2 separate regions of the Homo sapiens genome follow, and region 2 is linked to region 1. The links come from fine-mapping of genetic effects on gene expression. A gene starts in region 1. The other region holds a variant in brackets. All regions are shown on one strand. Distances are between the middles of the regions.

Region 1 (4,377 bases):
AGGAGGCCCTGGTGTCTCTAACCAGGACCACAGCCTCCTCAGGGGCCTGCCGCCACCAGCCTTTCGCCTTGCTGCTGACCTTAGCAGGACAGCCTCCTGCTGAGAACCCTTCGGTGGCCACCTTCCCCTCCAGAAGAAAGTCTAGACCCCTTCTGGAGGCCTTCGGGGCCATGCAGAGCTGGCCAGGCACCAGCCAGCCTCATTTCTGGTCACGCTCCCAGCATCCTCACCAGCCGAGAGCCCTAATTCACAGCCCTCCGAGTCCCAGCGCCACCACCTTGCTCCTCCCTGCTGAGGCCACCTCTCAGGACTTCTCCTGGGGTTATCCCCATCCTGGGCTCGGGGCAGCCCCCTCCTCTGGCTCCAGGCCCCCATGATAGCGCCCTCTGTGCGGCAGCCGGCACGCAGCCCCCATGGGTCAGTCTCACCCGCTGCTGCTCCAGGAGGCCAGGGACTGGCCCGGGGCGGCCAGGCTGAGCATCAGTAGACAGAGCTGATGTGCTTAGGAGTGACAGTATCCCCACCACAGGGAACACAGAGCTAAAGGAACTTGCCCTGGGGTGCCCAGCAGCGGGTAGAGCAGCGGGGTCTGTCTGACTCCAGGTTAAGGCCTCCTGCGTTACCCTCATGCCGTGCCCTGGGGCCACCCAGGTCTTCACCACCCTCTCTCTGTTCCTCACTTCTATTCTCACAGCTGCTCCGGGCCCTGCCCCTGGCAGCTCCCCTCACAGCCTCAGTCTTGTGGCCGGGCCGTTCTGGACCCTATCCTCTCCACAGTCGGACTGACCTCCTCCTGTGCTGCACATGGTGGCCTGGCGGGGTCTGAGGAAGCCTCCCCACCATCACCCACCCCCCACCCACTGGCAGCCCAGGCCCAGGCTCTTGGCCGGGACTGTGGTGGGCCTGTCTTCCGGCTCTGCCTATCGGGGTCTTCCTGCTGCTCTCTCAGGAAGGGGTAGCCCCCACCCCCGGCAGGGAAGGAAGATGAGGAGCCCCCGTGTCACTAGCCCCGTGGTCCTCCATGACTGATACCACAGCTGCTCTGCTGTAACTTCCTGTGGGGGCAGGGCCTTCCCACCCAGGCTGGGCCTGTCACCAACCTGCTCAAAGCTTCCGCCAAGGGGAGGGAGCGTGGGGGCAGGCCCCTGGGTCACCTAGACCCCCTCAGACCTCAGCAATGTGACTTCAGCCTCGGCCCAGACAAGACCACTCCTTCTGCCCCTATTGGTGGCTGAATGGAGGATTGTGGCTGCGTCTGATCCTTAGCAGACCAGCTGCAGCAGAAGGGAGGGAGGGAAGAGGGTGGGAGGGAGAGGAAGTTGGGGAAATGTCTTTTTTGGAACCAAATGATTAAGCTAATGCCTGAGTCACCGTGACACCATTATCGGGAGCTGAGCAGCAGGGATGGCCCGGAAGTGCCCAGAGACACCCGTGGCGGCCGCCCATGGTGCCGAGTTCAGCAAGCGGGCAGCGGACACTCACTGATCTGCTCCACAATCTTCAGGAGCACCCCGCCGATGTGCGACTCCCCAGTGACCCGCAGGGTGACCGACTCGGCCTCTGGGTCCTCCTCTCCCACAAACACCCGCAGCTCCCATGACGAGTCGATGTAGTCCCCGGAGGCTGTCTTCATCCCCGCCATGGCTGCGGCTGCTGCTACAGAGAGTGTGGAAGGAGGCAAGGTGGGCAGGCCCTGGTAGGCCTCCGGGTTTGGGCAGAAGAGCTCTGTGATGCCCTGGACACACCCAGAGGAAAGCCGCTCATGAAGGAGGGCGGGAGTGAGCACCCAGGCCAGCACGCCCGTGGTACCCTCAGACTCTCTCTCCAGCGCTGGCGCTTGAGCCGCGAGGGCCCTCAGAGACCATGTAGTCCAATCCGCTCCCATCCTACAGGCGGGCAGACTGAGGCCGGGTAAGAAGGGGCTCACTCAGGACCACCGTGCTCAATGCCAGCCCACAGCTCACTCCCAGACCCTCAGGGGCAGCTGCCCACTCTGGCCATGGCTTCGTACCCAGGCCAGGAAGTAGTTCCGATCCTGGCCCACAGCTCAGATGCCAACATCACAAACCAGCCAAAGCCTCTCCGGGGAGGTGGAAAGTTCAGGCTGCCGCATGGCGAGAGGCAGGCTGGGCAGAGGCTGCAGGAGGATAAGGAAGAGAAGGGCCCAGGGTCCCAGTGAGGCCTGAGCTTACCTTTCCTGGCAAGGGCTGGGGGCTGCAGGTGGGTCTCGGGCTACACCCCTGTGGGCCGTGGGCTTCCTGCCCTCCTTTCTCTTTGGAGCTTCCTTCAGGGCAGCCCTTGCTTGTGCCTTATCACGAGCAGGGCGGGTTCAGCCCCTCCCCAGGGCGGGCTGGCGCTGGGTGCAGGAAGCACACTGCCAGCCCACAGAGGGTTCCAGGGGCCCCCCCACCTTTGTCCCCAGAGAGCACAGGAAGCTAGGGAGAGCGGGGCTTAGCGACTCAACACCATAAAAACGCCCCCTTCCTCATTTGGAGGGAAGCTCAGTGCAAACTCAACAAGTCCCCCGGCTGTGTGTGTTCAGGGCTAGGTCCACTTTTGTGGGAAGTGTCTGCCATCCTCAGCCTGTCACATGAGGTGGGGACCTTGGGCTTTGAAACATCACTGGGCTGCCGGAGGGAGAGCCCAGGAGTCGACAGAGTGTATCCAGGTTATTTGGGACTCACAGGTTAAATCGGCTCCAGCCTGGCTATCCCTATCAACCAAGGATCCCTCAAGGCCCCAGAGGGAAACAAGTCCATTTTGCAGTTTTTCCTAGCTCCGCGTAGGGCTACCTTCAAACTCATGAACTCAGACCTGCCAGGTGAACAAGTGAACAGTACTTGGCCCAGACCATCCACAACCTCCCGGGCCCTCAGGTCACCCAGCTCCAAACACGACCCCTCCACTGTGCTCCACTTGGATGAGCCTCCCCGAGTCCCCACGAGGCTCACTCCCATCAAGTCCCTGCTTAGGTGACACCTCAGGGGTCTCTGGTGGTCTATACCCTCCTGCTCATCACCTGCCCTAGGATGTGGACTTCAGTAGAGCAAGGCACGTCCGCCACCAGCTCTGCGCAGGACAGCGGCCTTTCCAGTGAACACACTGGGGTTGGAGCATGCAGGGTGGGCAAGCCTGGGGGCGGCAGAGTCCTGCCAATGGGGGAGGCTACCTGAGCATCGCCACTCAGATGGGGAAGGGGGCGGCCTGCCGGGGATTCCCAGGGGAAAAGAAAGCTGATGAAACTAACAGCAGGAAGTCCAGCCAGCTGCTAGTCTCAGCGCCTTCCTAGCCCAGAAAGCAGCACTCTTGGAGCAAATGAGGAAGTTTTACTCCTGCCCCAAAGGCCTCCCCAGTCCAGGAAGAGAGCTTTAGAAAACGCAGCTTGTTGCAACCATGGAAAAGTGTAATTAAAGCTTAGCACCCTAAGTTCTCAGGTAAGAGCCGTGCATTAAAACCATCACCCAGGCCGGGCGCGGTGGCTCACGCCTGTTAACCCCAGCACTTTGGGAAGTCCAGGCGGGTGGATCACGAGGTCAGGAGATTGAGACCATCCTGGCTAACACGGTGAAACCCCGTCTCTACTAAAAATACAAACAAACAAACAAACAAAAAATTAGCCGGGCGTGGTGGCGGGCGCCTGTAGTCCCAGCTACTCGGGAGACTGAGGCAGGAGAATGGCGTGAACCCGGGAGGCAGAGCTTGCAGTGAGCTGGATCACGCCACTGCACTCCAGCCTGGGCGACAGAGAGAGACACCATCTCAAAAAATACAAACAAAAAAAACCCATCACCCAGTGGGGTGCAGTGGCTCATGCCTGTAATCCCAGCACTTTGGGAGGTTGAGGCGGGTGGATCACTTGAGGTCAGGAGTTCGAGACTAGCCTGGCCAATATGGCGAAACACCTGTCTCCACTAAAATATAATAATTAGCTGGGTGTGGTAGCAGGCTCCTGTAATCCCAGCTACTGGGGAGGCTGAGGTAGGAGAAGCGTTTGAACCCAGGAGGTGGAGGTTGCAGTGAGCCGAGATCACACCACTGCACTCCAGCCTGAGACTCCATCTCAAATAACAAAACAAAAACAATCCATGACCCAACTCCTAAATCTAACAGCAGCTAACAGCATAGCTGCCCTCTCCCCACAGAGGTCTCAGCATCTCACATTAGAATCCTGTTCTCTGGATCTCCACTATAACGTGGAGAATTAACAGCACCCAAAGCTTATCTGAACCTCTCATTGGTACTACTTGGGGTGGGGAAGCCTTCAGATTCCCTTCCAGCTGCTGAGCAACAGCGCCATCTGGCAACCTTCTTGGCAAAGCCATGGAGCTGTGCCAAGCCACAGCTTGGGACTCCTCCTAAGCCCGCCCCAAAGAGAAG
Region 2 (4,377 bases), 77 kb after region 1:
ATCCGCCAGGGCCCTGATCCAGGAGAAAGCTAATTAAAGAATTTCTGCTCTTGGCTCAGCCTGGACATAGAAGATTCCCCTTGGTCTTCCTGGAATATCTGAAAACAGGTGGAGAAAGGCATCAGATAAGCCCCGGGAGCCTCCATAATAGGCTTAATCCCCCCAAAGCCAGCAGGCATCAAACAGCTCTCCTCCCGGGACCACTGAGAAAGGGCTCGAGAGCTTGGAGGACGTGGGGCTGTTCCTAACCACATCCCAGACTGTAGGTCCCCTTGTCCCCAGCTCCCCATGAATAGGAGACTGTGTTCCTCATGAGTTCAGACGGAGTATCAGCCATTTCTGCATAGTTCTCCAGAGCAGGGGAAGGTGCAGAGACCTGGCCCCAGCAGCTCCGGCATGGGGAGGCCCCACTTCCAGGGCTGCCAGCAGTCACTGTGATGACTGGCATGTAGCAGATGCTCAGTCAAGTGCGCCCCTCCCTCCCGCCACTCACTTCCCTCCGGTTCCCCCTGCCCCCCTCCTCAGCTTCTTTTCTTTCAAGGGCCTGTTTGCCTGTAGGAGATTTTCATCAACCAACCACAAATATTTACTCAACACTTACCGGCAGGCAGCACGTGAGCTCCACAGGGCAGGGGGCTCTCGGTCCCATTTGCTGCATGTTCCCCATCTGAACAGGGCCTGGCATGCAGTAGGTGCTCAATAAAGGCTTGGTTGGTAGTCACAGCCTGAAACAGGGTAGTCTCTGCTCCCAGAGAGCTTACATTCCTGCTGCCTTCAGAAAACATCCTGAGGGGCTGGGCGCGGTGGCTCACTCCTGTAATCCCAGCACTTTGGGAGGCCGATGCGGGTGGATCATTGAAGTTGGGAGTTCAAGACCAGCCTGGCCAACATGGAGAAACCCCATCTCTAGTAAAAATACAAAAATTAGCTGGGCGTGGTAGCACACGCCTGTACACGCAGCTACTTGGGAGGCTGAGGCAGGAGAATCGCTTGAACCTGGGAGGCGGAAGCTGCCGAGATCACCTCACTGTACACCAGCCTGGGTGACAGAGCGAGACTCCATCAAAAAAAAGAAAACGTCCCGAGGGTCTTTGAGGGATCATGGAGCCCCCACACGTGGGTGGGGTGAGGGTCTTAAAGCCTGCCCTCCCCGTCACTCTGAGCTATGGCCAAGCTGGGTGTAACCCTGGAGAGAGTCAGGGTGTCCTCACCCGCTTCAGGCAGCTGGCCCCCATTTCCCTCTGCAGTGCCTGGGGCGGGGGTGACAGGGAGCATTTAGACCCGCAGCTCCCTGCACAGGGACCTCCTGGGGCACTCGCCTGCATCACAAGAATAAAAATGATAAAAACCTGCCACTGAATTCTGGGTGGCAGTAAATTACTTAACACCTGAAACAGGTTGAAATGTGGCCACTGTGGTTTTAATAAGCCCATCTCCGATGCAGTGCTTCCTCGCCGGGCCGGCCAGTTCTCTTCTTGAGGCATAATTTCATCTCGTCCCAGGCTTGGCAGCATTGCAAATAAGATTTCACTTCCCCTGTAAATCTTAGAGGGAGGGAGTGCAGGATTTCATTTGTGCTGTCAGTTAGCACTCCAGAGAGCCTGTTTACTTTGCCGCAGGAGGAGAAGGTCCTCTGGAGGTGCTGGACAGGGTGGCGGGTGGGGAGGTGGCAGTGTCAGCACTGGAAGGTGACGTGGGTGCGGCGGCGGGGAGGCAGCGGCATGTGTGGGGGGGTCCTGGAAGCATGCCTTATTTGGGGTGCCTGAAAGTGGATGAGCCAATGTCAGACCCACGGAGGCAGAATTTCAGGGCCAGCTGGGTGCCCTCCCATGCGTCCGGGACCCTCCTAGGCTGGGTGATAAGACTCAGCCACAGAACTTGGGTGTGGGGGTGTGGCCTGGGGTGTTAGACCCCTCCCAGGTTCCGACGCCTCTTCTTCAGGTTGCTCGGTGAGGCCAGAGACCCCTCCTGGGAAGTAGGGGCAGGAGAAGGGAAGCTTCCAGAACCCAGTGGTAGCCAGGTAAGGGCAGTTTCCAGGTACAGGAAAGCAGCCATGGAGGGGTAGGTATCACCCACTCTCTCTCTCTCATTTGAGCAGGAGCTTTTTAGTCCTGAGTCTGACAAAACAGACGGAGTCAGATACACAAAGCCGGAGCCCCGGGACTTAAGGTGCCTCTTGGCCGCAGGGCAGCCATTCGGGGGTCTTACCCACACGTGCCCCTAATCTCAGTGATAATGCAAGTCCTGAGAGATTTGTGGGGAAGGAAAGGGCCCAAAGTGGCTTGGCTGGAGGGTGGCACGGTGGGGGGCTGCAGCAGTGGTGTGGGGTAGGTTTCTCGGGGGACCACCCCATCTCCTGGCATCCAGCTGAAGACATGGTGTCAGGGCTCTTTGGGGCCAGCAGGTCCCCTGCAGTGCCTTTGAGGCACTGGCCAGTCCTGCTTGCTTTCCTGTAAGAACGGGAGGCTCACGGCCCCCCAACCACCCGGTCCTCTTCAGAACAGGTTATGTTTGGAGGGTTTTCCTTTCATTCCTGAAATGCAGGTCCTGGCAATTCCCTCCTGTGCGGCCCAAACCTGGCTGAGCCTCCAACT[C/T]CCCTGGGGCGCGTATTAAAACCTGAGATGTCCCCCACACCCACCCCCAATCCTGAAGCCTAAGGCTGCAGCCAGCCTGTCATCCTCTTCAGCAGGCCGTGGACCTGGGATTGTTGTGGGGGTGGTTTGGGGAACAGGCCCCACCCTGTACGGTTGCCTCTCTGTGCTGGACCTGGGGGCACTTTGCTGCCTGGGTCCAAAGGTCCTGCCAAGAACCTGGGCCTCCCTGCAAGAAGTGCCAACCAGCTCAGCACCTGGCTCCATCCCTGGGGGCCAGGAATGCGGGAGAAACCCCCCAGGAGGCTGTGCTGGGGGTGGGGGAGGCCTACACTCCCCAGACAAACTGTAGGCAACCCGGCCTCCCACGCCCTCTCACAGAGGCTCCGTCACAGCCGTAGGGTTGGTGCGGGTGGTTTCTGAGCTGGGCACTCCCAGTGGCATTACCTGTGTCGTCCCACCTCACCCTCCCAACAGCAGTCGGGGATGGAGCTGTTATCATGTACGCATGGAGGTGGAAACTGAGGCACAGAGAGGATGAGTAGCACATGTGGTAACTGGCGGAGCCCATGGGTCTAACCCAATACCCAGGGACTCCAAGGCCCTGCCCCAGGAGAGCAGTGGTGTTAATCCAGTGGTTCCCAAAGGCCTGTGACCGGGAACCCTTTCTGGGCAACACCTGTGTTAGCTCCAGGGGCTGAGGAACACAGTTTGAGAACACAGCCCTTCTTCCCTAGCTTCGAGGGCTCCACAGGTGTCCCCAGATTTGTGGCGCTGCCACACGTGGGGAGGGTGAGGTAAAGCCGGGAGCAGGACTTCCTGGGGAAGGGTGGGTTCACTGGGGTTGGCAAGGGCTGTTGTGCTTGGAGAATCATCCTCCTTGTACTCACATGGATCCATGGAGTGATTGGCTGATTGATTTACTGTTTATCGACTCACTCTTCATTCCTGTTTACGGGGCCTCCTGGTGCCAGACAAGTGCCCTCTGGGGATCTGGAGGTGTGGAGGGCAAGAGCTGCCAGTCTGGGCTCAGCCAAGCGAGGCGTGGGAAGGGGTCACCTGTGCAGGTGAGAAAGGCCAGCAGAGGCGTGGGAAACCAGTGCAGCATAGACCTGAAGTCTAAGCCACACTGGGCCTGGGGGGTGTCAGGCGTGGAGGGCAGAGGGTGGGGCTGCACTGAGGCTGGAGTCTGAGGGGGGCAACGGGGAGATGGGGGGACACAGGGCCTTCCTGAGTGGGGCGCAGAAGTGGACCTGCCCTCCTGTCTACCTCAGGCGGGCGGCGTGCCAGGCCTTCCCCATTGCCTCCTAGTCCTCCTTATCCGTGGAAGCGTCCTCTGTGGAAATCTGGTTCCCCACAGAGCCTCCCCAGCCCCACCCAGGCTAGGCCCTGACTCAGCCACGTAGATTCCTCACTCCTCCATGAGGCAGGAATACACCAGCCCCAGAGCATAGCAGGCCCTCAGTCAATATCTCCTGGCTGGCTGGCTGGCTGACTGTGTTCCAGAAAGAGCCCTCGACAGCCCCAGAGAATGGGTCTCAGGTGAGGGAGTGGGCACCCCTCCTGGGCACCCACTGTGCGCTGGGTCTCAGGGAGAAGTTGGAAGAACAGCCTGGGTCCTTTCCTGGGTGGTCACACTGTGTGCCACACCTTAGAGTGGTCTCTCTTGGGCTGCTCCTGCCCTGGCAGGACAGGAGGTGAGGATGGAGGAGGAGGGTGGGGCAGAGAGCACCTGTGGGGCCCACGTCACCCCACTCAGGGCCACCGGCCACTGAGAATTAACTTT

The links. PIP is the estimated chance that this variant, and not a neighbour inherited with it, causes the effect. A credible set is the group of variants that fine-mapping cannot tell apart.
Region 2: its variant is the best candidate, but not a certain one, in a credible set for the expression of FERMT3 in whole blood (TOPMed, PIP 0.51).

What each region holds. Positions count from the first base shown.
Region 1 is chr11:64,204,630-64,209,006 of GRCh38, reverse strand. FERMT3 (FERM domain containing kindlin 3) reads right to left here and starts at 2,286. Exons shown (of 15, transcript NM_031471.6): 1 at 2,193-2,286; 2 at 1,483-1,656. The coding sequence starts at 1,642. RefSeq lists enhancers at 438-517, 578-697, 1,638-1,717, 2,038-2,117, 2,552-3,114 and 2 more.
Region 2 is chr11:64,128,041-64,132,417 of GRCh38, reverse strand. The region is part of intron 3 of MACROD1 (mono-ADP ribosylhydrolase 1); the gene reads left to right. Among named protein-coding and RNA genes, the nearest start is that of MACROD1, 36 kb to the left of the region's middle. RefSeq lists an enhancer at 2,348-2,941. The variant C/T (reference allele first, on the strand shown) is at 2,595.